2 separate regions of the Homo sapiens genome follow, and region 2 is reported to be linked to region 1. The links are microRNA targets in miRTarBase. Many come from high-throughput screens and were not tested one by one. Region 1 holds a microRNA gene; the other region holds the end of a gene's coding sequence.

The links. The annotated mature microRNA hsa-miR-154-3p reads AAUCAUACACGGUUGACCUAUU and lies in region 1 at 3,082-3,103, shown strand. An mRNA with a match to its seed (bases 2 to 7 or 8) in the 3' UTR can be bound and repressed. Matches are read on the target gene's strand: a 7mer-m8 pairs with bases 2 to 8, a 7mer-A1 pairs with bases 2 to 7 and ends in A, and an 8mer does both.
Region 2: miRTarBase lists ITGB8 as a target of hsa-miR-154-3p. Seed matches in the 3' UTR shown: 7mer-A1 at 3,075-3,081 and 7mer-A1 at 4,061-4,067.

Annotation. Positions count from the first base shown.
Region 1 is chr14:101,056,724-101,061,123 of GRCh38, forward strand. MIR154 (microRNA 154) reads left to right here and starts at 3,032; the gene lies at 3,032-3,115. It overlaps MIR496 (microRNA 496), which reads left to right and starts at 3,850; the gene lies at 3,850-3,951.
Region 2 is chr7:20,409,376-20,413,775 of GRCh38, forward strand. ITGB8 (integrin subunit beta 8) reads left to right here. Exons shown (of 14, transcript NM_002214.3): 13 at 240-403; 14 at 500-4,400. The coding sequence ends at 622. Among named protein-coding and RNA genes, the nearest start is that of ITGB8-AS1, 80 kb to the left of the region's middle.

The DNA of each region.
Region 1 (4,400 bases):
GAAGACAGTTGCATTTTCAATTTCTTGTTTTTCTTTTCAAAAAGGATAATTATTCTACCTTATTACCATATTTATGAAAATGACACATGCTTAATAAAATTCAAGCGATGTGGAAAAATCTAAATGAAAAAGAAGGAAAATTGCCCAATTCTCTGGCACCCAGAAATAACCATTAAGGGCTTTAGAAATTTCATACACCTGTCTGAGCATACATGCAAATAGAAAAACAAGACAGACGCAGGGAAAATATGAGATCACACTGTACCTAATCATTTTATTAAAAATGCTAACTATAATTTTCCTTGAATTTATCATAAAAAACAAGCTAAAGGAGATTGAAATGATTGATAAATGTTTCTCGCTTTACCACCACAGGTAGCAACTCCTAAAAGATCCCTGTAAAATTAAGAAAAATTAGAGTGTAAAAATTAAGTGGTTAGGATTGTTATGGTTTTTAACTATTTCAATTTCACTCCTAGTTCAGAAAGATAAAGAAGTCAGCATTCTTATTCTTCCTTTGCTTACTATCTCCTGCTTTTTCTCAATTATACATTTTAATTTTACATTATAAATATCTGCAATTTGTTCTAGAACTATAATTCTTGCAGGTGTTTTGCCATAGTTCTATATTTAAATGAATTCATTTCTGACCACAAGGTTTGTTTTTTTTTAACTGAGGTTTCTCCGTTCTTTAGTTTTTAAGTTTAATTTATCTCTCAATGGAAATGATCTTATTGTTTCTGTGAGAATAGCTCATAGACACTACCCTTGAGTTCCTGTGCATTTGAGAGTATATATCTCTTTATGCACAAGGGACAGCTTAACTAGGTATAAAAGTCTCAGCCTACTTGTTTTTTCTCAGAAATTTATAGCTATTGTCCACTGTTTTTTGCATTGAGGCTTTCACTAGCTGTCTTAATGTGGCTTCTCCATGTAGCTCTTACTTACCTGGACTATTTTATCTAGCGATCTTCACAAACCTTGTTGGAAAGACTTTGAGGTACTATGTTCTGTGAGGTATTTCGTCTCTGAGAATGTCTGACCATTGCTCTTACACCTTTTCCCATCTGTCCATTTTTTTTTCATTCTGTTCTATTTGGCCTTTATGATTTCAAGTTTTTAAAATTTCTTTAGTCACTTTAAAGATATTTATTGTATAATTTCTTTCAGCTTTAGGGATACAAGCCCCTTTCTTTGTTGAATCTATTGACTCTCATGATGGTGCTTTTCTTCATGGTTTTTGTAGCTTTGTGTTGTGAGGTTATCATCAGTTGAGCACTTAGGTGTTTCTGTTTTGTTTCAATCCCTATGCACATGAGTTTGCATTTGGTTCTGCCTGGTACCCCAAGGAATTTACCAGTTGGTACCAGTTTTTCAACTCATTTTGTTGGCTTAAGGATTCCCAGACATATGGCTGGCAGAAGTCCTCACCATATCTTTGTCCTGAACCTTTGGTATCTCACAGGAGACCTCATTCTATCCACTCCCTAAAAATGACAAATTCTCTTATCCCTGGCCATTATAAAATTTTCTGGTTCCCCTTTCCATTCCCAGATCAACTTCTCCTGGATGCACGGTCATGTCTTTTCATCCTGCTTGTACTTGAACTTGACTGTAGACCCTTGGAGCCTCTAGCCAGCACAGCATCCCTTAGATCCCTTAGTGGCAGGTTGCATGAACTAATTCTTTTCATTAACACCTGAGGGTTTTGCCTTTCAGCTGTATGTTTATTTGGGAATTGATTTTGCCTGCTGTTGCATTTTATCCAACACTTCTCAATGTTTGTGGAGGAGAGGGTTCCCTATCAGTGCTTGTTGCTGGGATGGAGCCTTTGAGCTGAATGATGGGTGAACTTGGCATGACATTCTTGGCTCCCAGTTTCTTCCCTCTGAACTTTGTAAACTTGCCTCCATTGCTTTCTGGTGTTAAACCATTGCTGTGGACAAGCCTGGGGACAGCTGCTTTCCCTTGGATGGATGAACTTTTTTTTTTTCCTGCTTAGATTTCCTGATTCTTTCTTTAGTCTTGAACGTTGGTGACTTTACCGGGTTATGACTCAGTCACTATTTTTATTCATTAGTTTTTCTGAATCATAATATGCCTTCTTGATGAGTAGATTTAATCGTTCCTTTGTTTCAAGGATTTATTCATTTTATGAGCACTTTTCTACTCCAGGTGTTGGTTTTTTCTTTGGTGAAATAATCTGTTTTGTTCATTTCATTGTGTACTGGAGGAGAAGAAAGTCTGTCATCTGGCCCCTTGCTGCCATCTGTCTGCACGTCAGTCTGTTGTCATTTGCACTGTGCATTTGTCTATTTAAAACAATCCTACCCAGATGCCCCCTCCTCAGTGTCACCTTCCACCCTGGCAGGATGCCTTATGGCAATGCCACTTCTGAGATGGTCGTGGGAGTCAGCACCACTGGCCAGGTATGTGAATTTTCTGCTAACAATGGAAGAGTTTGAAAAACCATATATGAAGTACCATTAACCCCAAGCATGCAATCTATCCTTAGGAAGACTTCCTGGAAATTATGCTCACCTTTGGGGATGAGGCCATGATTCTGAGGTCAGTGCCATGCCATGGTCTAATAAAGTTTGCATTCAATGCTGTTTGTTTCTGTATGATCAATATTGTAAAGTCAGTCTCTTTGTCATGGACTCAGCTTTGGAGGGTTCCTGGACACAAGGCCTGTGTAAGGAAAGGATCATTACTGTCAGCCTCGATGCTAATGTGAGATGAGGGAATGTGCCCTGCTCTGATCCAAATGCTGAGTTTCTGTGCACTTGGCCTCTCCACCATCAGGTTCCCTGGCAGTGCTCCTTTAGACATGCACCCACCTTGGCAAAGGCATTGAGGTCTGGATGGCTGCAGGGTCCGGGATGGAATGGTTGAATACAGGGCGTGTGCTTTCTTCTCAACCCTCTTGCAGTCCGTCTGCTAACCGTCAATGTTCACTGTCTCCTAGGGGGACTTCCTGGAGGAGGCCAACTTTGGAGAACAGGCATTGACATTGGGTCTGCGCTAGCGTGTGGTACTTGAAGATAGGTTATCCGTGTTGCCTTCGCTTTATTTGTGACGAATCATACACGGTTGACCTATTTTTCAGTACCAAATCCCGCCTTGGAGGGCTTCCTGGAGCGGAGTCTTACTTCAGGGTGTCAGCTCCTCTCCAGGGTAAGGAAGGGGACCATTGACCATAGCCGACCCAGCAGTGTGCCCTGGCCCTAACCCTGTGTGTGCCCCGTCCTTGGGGAGGTTTCTAGAGATGGTGCCACCTTTGGGGAAGAAGTGGAGCTTTTCCTATCAGAGCTACTCTGTGGTACTGGTGGAGAGGTCTTCCATGATGCATTCGATTTATTTTTTGACCAATCCTACATAGTGGACTCTTTTGAAAGCATTAAATCTAGCCTTAAAGCACCCTCGGGTGGTGCCGAGTTTAGGAACTAGAACTGGTGTCTGAATGCCTGAACGCACGGCGAAGCTGACAGTGTGCACACTCTTCTTGGTGGGTCGTGCACCTGCAGGCGTCCTGCTTGCTTACCATGGCAGTTTCCTCGAAAGAGGCGGCAGTTCCCTCATCGGCTCACTGCATGTTTGACAAGACACCGTCTTGCTGTCTTCCCTGCTGCCCTCTCTTCATGTATCACAGATGGTGCTCTGCAGACCTCTCTGCTGTGGCACTTCCCTCCCTGAATGGCTTCCTGCAAGAGGTGCTAATTGCAAGTAAGGGATGGAGTGCGGCCCGGACCGCAGAGCTTATTTCGTGGGTGGTGTGTTGCCACCTTCCTGACTCTCAGTATCCCGTCCGTCCTCAGGCCTGCTGCTGGGACGCGCTGGAAGCGAGCACCCAAGTCAGGTACTCGAATGGAGGTTGTCCATGGTGTGTTCATTTTATTTATGATGAGTATTACATGGCCAATCTCCTTTCGGTACTCAATTCTTCTTGGGAAACGTCACGAGGGGAAAGCCCAGCCGGCACCTGCGCAGGGTAAGGAAGTGGATCACCTCCGCATGACAGGTGCTCTCTGTGTGACTTACATCACTTGGCTCATATCCCGGCCATCATTAGGAGGAATTCCCCGAAATGATGCTGACGTTTTAGTTGACATGGTGGTCTTCTAGTCGCATCCTTGAAGACTCGTCAGTGAATAAACCACATTTAGTCAACCTTTTTAGGTGTGAAATCATCTTGGCTGTGTGGCACACTTTAGGGAAAGGAACTCCTGGCTGAATGGAAGACATCCACATTACGCCCTCAAATACCTTATCTTCTGGGTGACCTCTGGGAAGCAAGGGGTGAAGGGGGTTTCCTCAGCAGTGAGAATTAATGTTGTTTAAAGACACATTTCCATGGCACGACTCGGTTATTCCTACTGCAAGACGAGAATTGTTAATAG
Region 2 (4,400 bases), not on the chromosome of region 1:
TAATCATGGCTATTTCCCAAAGGAGGGTTTTCTATTGAAAATATTTTCATAGTAAACGCGCAAGAAAAATTAGAGAGCTTTTTGTTTTGAATCAAAGGTAATTTCAATCCCGATTTGAAAATGGAGATTTGCAAATATCTTTGGCACTATTAATTGAAGTGTGAACATTATTTACTTGATAGACTCTTTGATTTACTTATTCCAATTTTTAATCCATTTATTTGTTTGCTTCATTACAGAATGTTTCTCCAGCCCAAGCTACTTGAGAATATTTTTCATCATTTTCATAGTTACATTCTTGATTGGGTTGCTTAAAGTCCTGATCATTAGACAGGTGATACTACAATGGAATAGTAATAAAATTAAGTCCTCATCAGATTACAGAGTGTCAGCCTCAAAAAAGGTCAGTGAATTCTAAAAAAGAACTGCTAACAGTATGTTATTGCCTAGTTACAATATTTAGGCCCTTAGTTAATAATAATATTTCTTCTCTATTAAGGATAAGTTGATTCTGCAAAGTGTTTGCACAAGAGCAGTCACCTACCGACGTGAGAAGCCTGAAGAAATAAAAATGGATATCAGCAAATTAAATGCTCATGAAACTTTCAGGTGCAACTTCTAAAAAAAGATTTTTAAACACTTAATGGGAAACTGGAATTGTTAATAATTGCTCCTAAAGATTATAATTTTAAAAGTCACAGGAGGAGACAAATTGCTCACGGTCATGCCAGTTGCTGGTTGTACACTCGAACGAAGACTGACAAGTATCCTCATCATGATGTGACTCACATAGCTGCTGACTTTTTCAGAGAAAAATGTGTCTTACTACTGTTTGAGACTAGTGTCGTTGTAGCACTTTACTGTAATATATAACTTATTTAGATCAGCATAGAATGTAGATCCTCTGAAGAGCACTGATTACACTTTACAGGTACCTGTTATCCCTACGCTTCCCAGAGAGAACAATGCTGTGAGAGAGTTTAGCATTGTGTCACTACAAGGGTACAGTAATCCCTGCACTGGACATGTGAGGAAAAAAATAATCTGGCAAGTATATTCTAAGGTTGCCAAACACTTCAACAGTTGGTGGTTGAATAGACAAGAACAGCTAGATGAATAAATGATTCGTGTTTCACTCTTTCAAGAGGTGAACAGATACAACCTTAATCTTAAAAGATTATTGCTTTTTAAAGTGTGTAGTTTTATGCATGTGTGTTTATGGTTTGCTTATTTTTGCAAGATGGATACTAATTCCAGCATTCTCTCCTCTTTGCCTTTATGTTTTGTTTTCTTTTTTACAGGATAAGTTTATGTATGTCACAGATGACTGGATTAATTAAGTGCTAAGTTACTACTGCCATAAAAAACTAATAATACAATGTCACTTTATCAGAATACTAGTTTTAAAAGCTGAATGTTAATAGGGGACACTGTAAAGTATCATCAAAACCTGAATAGCTTCATTGTGCACAAGTGTGGAGTTTTGTATCCTCTTACCTGGTAAACTGAAGGGATTGTTTGGCCATTTCATTTATCTTATCATTAATTCACAAGATAGTTAGAAATTCTGCCTCAAGCAAAGTACCACATTTTGAATGTTTTCTTAGATTTTGATTGCAAGTAGATATCAGCATTTTTTAAATGAAAAGCTATATTATCTTCTCCCTTCAAGGCAGCCTAAGGATGTTCTTTCCCAGAATCACTCCAACCCTTCTTGCCAGAATTCATAAAAGTACAAAATTGGAGAATAGATGATATCTTAGAAATAAGCTTTTTTTTTTTTTTTTTTTTTTTTTGAGACGGAGTTTCACTCTTGTCACCCAGGCTGAAGTGCAATGGCGCAATTAGGGTTCACTGCAACCTCTGCCTCCCGGGTTCAAGCAGTTCTCCTGCCTCAGCCTCCTGAGTAGCTGGGATTACAGGCATCCACCACCGTGCCCAGCTAATTTTTGTATTTTTAGTAGAGACGGGGTTTTGCCATGTTGGACAGGTTGATCTCAAACTCCTGACCTCAGGTGATCTACCCTCCTCGGCCTCCCAGAGTGTTGGGATTACAGGCATGAGCCACCATGCCAGGCTGCTAATTCTCCTTTTTAGTGAGTTAGGGAACTGAGCCTCAGAAAACTTAAACGATTTCTCAGAAAACACTCAAGTGATAAAGTGGCCACATTGGAAAGGAGTTTTTATCTTCTCATTGTCAGGCCAGTGTTCATTGCACAATATCATGCTACCTCTTGAATCTTTAAAATATTCAATTGGCAAATGTTTTTCAATGTGATTTACTCATGTCTTAAGTGTATGAGGAAAGTTCAAAGCAAAATAGAAAGGAATAATTCAAACTGAATTGTCCATAATCAGCTTCCAGTCTTTCATGCTAATCAGCTTCTTAAGAGACTGAAGTATGGCATACCTACAGGGGAATTCCTTCGCACCATAGCCTGTATGAACAGTGTTCCCTGGAGTTCTCCAGTGCTCAGCTTGAGACCTTGATACACGGGCCATGAGCCCTGTCTTCCCCAATGGAAATTTATTTACACTTACCTTATCCCTATGGACTTAGTCTGATTTTATTGGCTAGGAGTCTAACAGTCCTGTGTGGATATACAGTTTTGCCCATGACAACAAAGGAATCTATCCGAAATATCTTTTTTTTTATAATAAACTTCCAAGATTTGCTGTCTTCCAGCACTTGAGTTAAAGTACTAGATACTGCATTTTGATGAAGACTAACCCCATCTCATATTCTACCCTAAAGAGAACTGAAAAACCTATAATAAGTTGTTCTGGAGCCAATAAACACAGCAGCTCTGTTAGATGTCCTCTACAGCCAAGCACTTTCAATGCTAACTTGAACTGCATTTCCTTCCTCAAATGAGAGATTGACATAATTCAGTACTGTGAGTCACTTGTATAAGAAACCTTTGATCACTAAAAATAATGTAAAAATTGGGTTTAGTAGCCTAATACACATAACGTTCTTCTTAAAAAGGAAAATGGATGGATGCCTGACAACCCTCCAAAAGAAAAAAGTGTAAGATAGCCATTAAGATGATGACAATTTTTGAAATGAACATTATGATATTTATGAACAATAAACAAATTTCCGTATGGAATGAATTATCCAAAAAGAGTATAACAAAATGAAATCCTTAAAAATCCAGAGTTTATATTTTTTTTATACCCTCACTTGTTTGCACTAACTTTATAGTGGACCAAGGCTGTTACCATAGGAAGGGACAAACTTCCTTGTAGGCAACTCAGTGTTAGACGATGATTGTGGTTATGCTTGCAAAGTCTTGTGCTTATCTTTTTTGTTTTTACTTAAAAAGCTAATTTTTAAAGATTGTAGGGCTTGTATTTTACTTGAATAATTGATATCTTCCTGTGTAATGATTTGTGAGATGAGAATTAATATTTGACTAGTTAGAATTAATTAAATGGTAAGGGAACACAGGGTACTCTTAGGTTAAATAATGTATGCAAATAGAGTCTATTTTCAACTAATATGGCCACAGGAGCCTTTTGAGATTCATTGATATTAAACACAATTAATGAAATTTTAAATTGTTAACAGAATTGAGAACTTGAACAACACTTTTAGTACTGCAGCATTTTTGTGCCCTAAAGTATGTAATGATTTATAAATGTGCCATACATACACTACAACATAACATTTGCTTTGTTATGCATTTTATTTCTCTGGGGACACCATTGCACTGCAGTGCACACGTATTTATAAACATTTGTTATATTTTTGGAAACTTGCTAATATTTATTAAGTCATAGACTTTTCTGGAGGACTTAAAAATTCACTAAAAATCTGATTATGTCTTAAATGTTCAGTTTATCTTTGGTTTATTAAAATAAAAAAAAAATCTAAGATTAAACACAGTAGATATCTCTGGAGGCAATTTTCCAAAACTCAACATTAAAATTTGTGGATGCATGAGATGCAATCCTTCAAAGAATGAATCTGAAATATATTTTTAATATTTACTTAATATCCACTGAAGATATCTTTATGCAAGACAAGAGTCAGCCATCAGACACTGAAATATATTATGATAGATTATGAAGAATTTTCTCTGTAGAATTATATTCTTCCTGGAACCTGGTAGAGTAGATTAGACTCAAAGGCTTTTTCTTCCTTTTCTTACTCCTGTTTTTTCCACTCACTCTTCCCAAGAGATTTCCTAAAGCTTCAAGCTTAATAAGCCTAATAGTGAAAAATAACTGAATTTAATGGTATAATGAAGTTCTTCATTTCCAGACATCTTTAATTGATCTTAAAGCTCATTTGAGTCTTTGCCCCTGAACAAAGACAGACCCATTAAAATCTAAGAATTCTAAATTTTCACAACTGTTTGAGCTTCTTTTCATTTTGAAGGATTTGGAATATA